Homo sapiens: one gene and its partner. The protein of the gene in region 2 binds, or shares a complex with, the protein of the main gene of each other region. Each region holds a gene or a part of one and is shown on either strand. Other genes may lie near its edges. The genes, in order: HBA2 and AHSP. A codon is read from its position in the direction of its gene.

Evidence for each region.
Region 1: the proteins of AHSP (region 2) and HBA2 are in contact, whole or in part, in a crystal structure (PDB 1Z8U), measured with the Homo sapiens proteins. Residues at the interface, in NP_001305150.1 of Homo sapiens: Glu17, Leu21, Gln24, Gln25, Asp29, Leu31, Val32, Asp36, Thr39, Val40, Asp43, Trp44, Phe47, Tyr48, Tyr51, Tyr52; in NP_000508.1 of Homo sapiens: Ser36 (codon at 1,184), Phe37 (codon at 1,181), Thr39 (codon at 1,175), Pro96 (codon at 1,004), Val97 (codon at 1,001), Lys100 (codon at 992), His104 (codon at 838), Val108 (codon at 826), Ala111 (codon at 817), Pro115 (codon at 805), Phe118 (codon at 796), Thr119 (codon at 793), Pro120 (codon at 790), His123 (codon at 781), Ala124 (codon at 778), Asp127 (codon at 769), Lys128 (codon at 766).

Annotation. Positions count from the first base shown.
Region 1 is NC_000016.10:171,097-174,318, reverse strand, and holds HBA2 (hemoglobin subunit alpha), read right to left. Parts: upstream 1,444-3,222; 5' UTR 1,407-1,443; coding exon 1,312-1,406; intron 1,195-1,311; coding exon 990-1,194; intron 848-989; coding exon 719-847; 3' UTR 609-718; downstream 1-608. UniProt on the Homo sapiens protein: Involved in oxygen transport from the lung to the various peripheral tissues.
Region 2 is NC_000016.10:31,525,811-31,529,436, forward strand, and holds AHSP (alpha-hemoglobin-stabilizing protein), read left to right. Parts: upstream 1-2,089; 5' UTR 2,090-2,152; intron 2,153-2,166; exon of another isoform or gene 2,167-2,204; intron 2,205-2,325; 5' UTR 2,326-2,329; coding exon 2,330-2,404; intron 2,405-2,647; coding exon 2,648-2,881; 3' UTR 2,882-2,993; downstream 2,994-3,626. UniProt on the Homo sapiens protein: Acts as a chaperone to prevent the harmful aggregation of alpha-hemoglobin during normal erythroid cell development. Specifically protects free alpha-hemoglobin from precipitation.

The DNA of each region.
Region 1 (3,222 bases), about 31 Mb from region 2:
TACAAACTGCAGGAGACGTGCAGGAGTAAGGCCGCAAGGTGCTCTGCTGAAGAGTCTCCCCAGGTGTGGGCTGCCGGCTGTGAGCATCCCAGCCCCTTCCTCCTTCCCCACTGACTGGGCTGCTCTCAGAGGGTCACCGTGACACAGGAAGTGTGAGTAGGGCCAGCACCCTCACTCCAGCCACCTACCCTCTGGCAGGAAGGGGTGGGAATGAGAGAAATGTTCTGGCACCTGCACTTGCACTGGGGACAGCCTATTTTGCTAGTTTGTTTTGTTTCGTTTTGTTTTGATGGAGAGCGTATGTTAACTGGGTTCAACCAGGGAGATTTCAAAGGAGGGTGGCGATGCTGGGACTCCCTGAGTAGAACCCTGGATGCCTCTCTCCTCCCCAGCTTCTGAGCCACTGCCTGCAGGCCTGGCACCTCTCAGGACAGGGGATGGTTCAGCACCTTCTCTTGAGCAGGCCCACCTCAGCTTCCCCTCCCATACTCCCTGCAGTTCTCCCTCCCCAGCCCCATGCAGCTGCAGAGAGGTCCTTGGTCTGAGACAGGTAAACACCTCCATTGTTGGCACATTCCGGGATAGAGAGAACCCAGGCACACACAGGCTGCTGCCCACTCAGACTTTATTCAAAGACCAGGAAGGGCCGGTGCAAGGAGGGGAGGAGGGCCCGTTGGGAGGCCCAGCGGGCAGGAGGAACGGCTACCGAGGCTCCAGCTTAACGGTATTTGGAGGTCAGCACGGTGCTCACAGAAGCCAGGAACTTGTCCAGGGAGGCGTGCACCGCAGGGGTGAACTCGGCGGGGAGGTGGGCGGCCAGGGTCACCAGCAGGCAGTGGCTTAGGAGCTGTGCAGAGAAGAGGGTCAGTGCGGCCCAGGCCCGCAGCCGCCGCCTGCGCTACACCTCCCGCAACCCGCGTGATCCTCTGCCCTGAGAGGAAGGCGCCATCTCGCCCCTCGACCCAGATCGCTCCCGGCCCGCCGCTCACCTTGAAGTTGACCGGGTCCACCCGAAGCTTGTGCGCGTGCAGGTCGCTCAGGGCGGACAGCGCGTTGGGCATGTCGTCCACGTGCGCCACGGCGTTGGTCAGCGCGTCGGCCACCTTCTTGCCGTGGCCCTTAACCTGGGCAGAGCCGTGGCTCAGGTCGAAGTGCGGGAAGTAGGTCTTGGTGGTGGGGAAGGACAGGAACATCCTGCGGGGAGAAGCAGAGTGAGGGGTGGGGTTTGGGTCCGGGGCCAGGACGGTTGAGGGTGGCCTGTGGGTCCGGGCGGGCGAGGAGCCCGGGTCGGAGCAGGGGAGGGAGCCTCACCTCTCCAGGGCCTCCGCACCATACTCGCCAGCGTGCGCGCCGACCTTACCCCAGGCGGCCTTGACGTTGGTCTTGTCGGCAGGAGACAGCACCATGGTGGGTTCTCTCTGAGTCTGTGGGGACCAGAAGAGTGCCGGCCCGCGAGCGCGCCAGGGTTTATGCTTGGGGCGCGGGGGCACGCCCGGCCGGGCGGCGCTCATTGGCTGGCGCGGAGCCCGGGGCGCGGCCTGGACCGCAGGGGAGTCCCGGGCGGGGCCTGCGCGGGGCCGGGCGGCGGGCTCGGCCTCCCCTGGGGGTGCACGCGGGGCGGGGGCCAGGACGTCTCCACCCTCCACCCGCCACTCCACTCCCGCCCATCCCGCTCGCCCGGGGGCAGGGCGGTAGCGGCGCTGGCGGGGCCGGCCCGTTGGGGTCGGGCGCTGTCGGCTCGTGCACCCCGGAGCGCAGCGCCACCCTTTCCTTTCGGGCGCCGGAGCGTCCCTAGCGAGGGAGAAAGTCAGCCCGCACCCCCGCCCCGGCCTGGCACGCGCTGGACGCGCATCGACTCCAGCGGGATCGGGGAACACACGGGCGAGCGAGTGCGAGCCGGAGGGCTTCGCCCAATCCTGGGGCGGAGAGGAATGCGCGCACCCGGACGCCCTGGCCCATAGGAACTCAAAAGAATTTCTGCGCAGAGCCCCTCCTGCTCTCCAGCCTCGCTTCCTGCAGCTCCCTTTCCCTCTGGCGATAGTCACTAGTGTGCTTGAGTGACAGGCACCGGGAAGGAACAAACACCAGGACGCAAAAAGCACGGGGCTGGGCTGGGGGCGGCTCCAGATTCAGACTCCTCTACCCGGGGTTGTGGGGTGGCGCGTGGGGTGGTGGGTGCTGGCTAAGCCCCAAGTCATGGACTCACAGTTTGTGTGACTGACTCTCCCACTGGCCTAGAGGTCGTGGTTCACTGTGACACCCCCAGCTCTCCAAATGCTATCTGATGGAAGACTTGCTAGGTAAATACTGGTTGTAAACAGATAAACAAACTTGGCTCTGGGTAGGGAAAGGACAGGGGAGAGAAGGCCCCTGTGGTTGCAGAATGTAGGTGAGGGGATGTGGGGTGAGGAAGGAAGGGGTGGACTTGGCGAGGGGGAGGGTGGGAGGTGCAGGAGTGCCAGTGGGTGCATCCCTGCTCATGAAAAGTGATGGTTTGGCCAGGCTCGGTGGCTCACGCCTGTAATCCCAGCACTTTGGGAGGCCAAGGCGGGTGGATCAGCTGAGGTCGGGAGTTCGAGACCAGGCTGACCAACATGGAGAAACCCCGTCTCTACTAAAAATACAAAAATTAGCTGGGTGTGGTGGTGCACGCCTGTAATCCCAGCTACTCGGGAGGTGGAGGCTGGAGAATCCTTTGAACCAGGGAGTTGGAGGTTGCAGTGAGCCGAGATCGTGCCACAGCACTCTAGCCTGACGACACAGCGAGACTCTGTCTCAAAAAAATAAATACATAAGGCCGGGCGCGGTGGCTCACGCCTGTAATCCCAGCACATTGGGAGGCTGAGGCGGGCAGATGCGAGGTCAGGAGATCGAGACCATCCTCGCTAATGCAGTGAAACTCTGTCTCTATTAAAAATAGAAAAAATTAGCCAGGCGTAGTGGGGGGCGCCTGTAGTCCCAGCTACTCAGCTACTCGGGAGGCTGAGGGAGGAGAATGGCGTGAACCTGCGAGGTGGAGCTTGCAGTGAGCCGAGATTGTGCCACTGCACTCCAGCCTGGGTGACAGAGCGAGACTCCGTCACAAAAAAAAAAAAAAAAATAATAATAATAAAAATAAAAAAATAAAGTCATGATTTTTTGGGGGGATCATGATGGAAACATAGTAATAATCAGTGAGACTGTGGAATGGCGCAGAGCTGAATGAACTGGCTGAAAGGGATG
Region 2 (3,626 bases):
GTCTCACTCTGTCACCCAGGCTGGAGTGCAGTGGCGTGATCTTCGCTCACTGCGGCCTCTTCCTCCTGGGTTCAAGCGATTCTCCTGCCTCAGCCTCCCAAGTAGCTGGGATTACAGGTGCATGCCACCATGTCTGGCTAATTTTTGTATTTTTAGTAGAGAGGGGGTTTCGCCATGTTAGCCAGGATGGTCTCGAACTCCTGACCTCAAGTGATCTGCCTGCCTTGACCTCCCAAAGTGCTGGGATCACAGATGGGAGCCACCGTGCCTGGCCGGTAACACATACTTTCCACCCTATATAAATGAAAACATGTTCACATGGAAACCTGTACACAAATGTTTATAGCAACTCTATTCACACTTGCCCCAAAGTACAAACAATCCAGATGTCCTTCCGTGGCTGAATGAACAAACTACAGTGCATCCATACAATGCAATGTGTCCACTGACACTTGTGACAACTTGGATGGAGCTCAAGAACATCATGCTGACCAAAAAAAGTCAGTCTCAAAGGTTACATACTGTATGATTCCATTTATATGACATCCTGAAAAAGGCTTAACTGTAGTGATGAACAGATAAGTGGTTGCCAGAAGTTATGGGTGAGGGTAGGGGTGGCTACAAAAGGGTAACGTGAAGGAGTGGTTTTTGGGTGACAGAAACATTCTGTATCTTAACTGCGTTTGTAGTTACACAAATCTGTTATAAAATTAATAAACTAGGCCAGATGCGGTAGCTCACACCTGTAATCCCAGCACTTTGGGAGGCCAAGGTGGGTCGATCACTTGAGGTCAGGAGTTCGAGACTAGCCTGGCCAACATGGTGAAACCCCATCTCTACTAAAATACAAAAATTAGCTAGGCGTGGTGATGCACGCCTGTAATCCCAGCTACTTGGGAGGCTGAGGCAGGAGAATCGCCTGAACCTGGGAGGTAAAGTTTGCAGTGAGCTGAGATCGCATCACTGCACTCCAGCCTGGGCCACAGAGGGAGACTCCCTCTCAAAAAAAAAAAATTTAATATACTGTACACCAAAAGGAAGTCAGTTTTGCTGTATATTGATTAAAAAATGCTACAACCAAAAAGGCAAATCAACAAAGCTTTATGAGTGTATAGGCACCTATGAATGTTGGGTTTTGAATGGAAAAAAAAAGTGACAGGAAATATACAATGTTTAATGCTGGTTACTTTGGAGGGGGCAAAAATGATTCAGTTTTTCAGTGTACGTTTTTGTATTGTTTTAATTATTTCAATTAGTATATAGTGATTTTGAAATTTGAGAAACATCTACTGAAAATGGAAAATATCTGGAAAAATATTTAAAAAGAGGAAAAAGAGTATTTCTGCTTTATTGGGTACCTGTTGACAGGGTAGTAAACAAGACAAATCCATCTCCATTCTTTTTTTTCTTTTGAGATGGAGTCTCGCCCTGTCACCCAGGCTGGAGTGCTGTGGTGTGATCTTGGCTCACTGCAACCTCTGCCTCCTGGGTTCAAGCGATTTTCGTGCCTCAGCCTCCCAAGTAGCTGAGACTACAGGTGCCCGCCACCACGCCCGGCTATTTATCTCCATTCTTATGGAGCACAGCGTGGTGGAGTTCAGTCCACACGCTTACAGGTGGCTTATCTGCAAAATGTGTCTAAAAAGAAATTTTATAGGATAAATATTTTGTACATGTTTGAAACAGTGCTTGGCACAAATGAATAAATGTAATGCAAGCTGCTATTAATACATCATCTCCGAATTGGGAGAATCATTGCGATCACATCGTTGTGATTACACAAAAGCCTCTGTCATGTAATAGGGCTCAGTAAACGTCAATTTCCATAGCATTTCGAGCCTGGATACTGAAATATGGGGCAAAAAGCAGGAACATGCCCCTGGTTTGGCTCTTGCCTTCTTGCATTTCCTGGGTTTCCTCATTTATCTTTTTTTTTTTTTTTTTTGGCCTTGTTATCTTTCTACCTTCAGGGAAGCCTCTCCCTTCTTCTCCTCCCTAGAATGACCTATCACCCTCCTTCAGGACCTAGATGCAGGGCGTTTCTATCTTAGGCTGACACTTGACTCCTTGCCTACATCTATAGCTTGGCACAGAGAGATTCACGCACCCTCAAGAGTGTGGGTGAGACATATACAGCCTGTTAGACCTGAAGGTGAGCCCAACCTGGGAAAATCGTGACCTCAGAGCAGGGCAGGATGTGAAAGGTTTTGGAAAGGAGATAGCCCTGCAGGGCAGGAGGGATTTTTAAGGGGAGGAAGTGGGTTGGGGGAAATACCCAGTGAGGAGGGAAACAGATATGTAAATTCTACCCTTTTCTCTACCCAGGCAGATGGCTCTTCTTAAGGCCAATAAGGATCTCATTTCCGCAGGATTGAAGGAGTTCAGCGTTCTGCTGAATCAGCAGGTGAGTCCAAGCTTTCCATTTCAAAGGACTGGCCTGGAGACTGGGGGGTGCCGGGGAAGTGGAGGAAGAGGATAATTGGAGCTGGTGAAGTAATGGTGGAGTTGATGGAAACAACGAGAGACACGGGATACAATGCAGAGGAAAGAGAATGTGAGAGTTGGTGCTGTGGCACTATTCTAGTATTCCCGAATCCCATTGCTGACCACATTCTCCCTTGCCAACTGCCTCTCCGCAACCCCCCAGGTCTTCAATGATCCTCTCGTCTCTGAAGAAGACATGGTGACTGTGGTGGAGGACTGGATGAACTTCTACATCAACTATTACAGGCAGCAGGTGACAGGGGAGCCCCAAGAGCGAGACAAGGCTCTGCAGGAGCTTCGGCAAGAGCTGAACACTCTGGCCAACCCTTTCCTGGCCAAGTACAGGGACTTCCTGAAGTCTCATGAGCTCCCGAGTCACCCACCGCCCTCCTCCTAGCTCAGGGACCCAGCCCCTCCTCTCTGAGAAACTCTGACCTTCATGTCCTTAGGCTGTGCTCCTGCCACTCTACCCTGACACCTCAATAAAGACCAGTGCTGGTTTTGTTGGACTTCCTGGCTTCTCTTTCATGGTCTGTCCTGACATGTGGAGGCACTCGGTCCCTTTCCTTCCGCCCTCCTTCTTAGATATGCTCTTGGAAGCTTAATTCCTTACAGCAGAGGTTAGCAGCCTTGAGTGACCACCGGGCAGCGATTCTAAACTAAAACAGGCTGAACGAGGGCCAGGAAGGCGGGACTAGAGAGAGTGCAGAGCTGCAGGGGAGGGGGTGGCAGAAACAAGAAAGGGGGATAGAAGTCCTCCAGACATTGTCCTGTGACCTGCTTGTCGAGGAGGAAACTGTTGGAAGTCTCCCAGTCTTGTTCATCCTGCGCCAGGTCCACCGCCTCGACTTTTCAATCCCCTGTCCTTAGCCCCAGCTCAAACTACATTCTAGGATCTTCGGACTCTGACTACCGCAAAATACCTCCCCGGAGCCCCAGGCATCGCAGGAATTTAGAGTTGGAAGGGATCCTGGGAACCCTTTAGCGCGCCCCTTATATTTCAGGAGGGGAAGCCACTTCCCTTTGGCTCCAACATCCCTGGGCGCAGATGCCAGGATTGGGAAGCAGAGGAATCCGCCTTCCCCCCACCCCAAGCTTCTCAGATCAATTCCCGGTCTAGCTCCCTTTCTCCCAGACCTCCA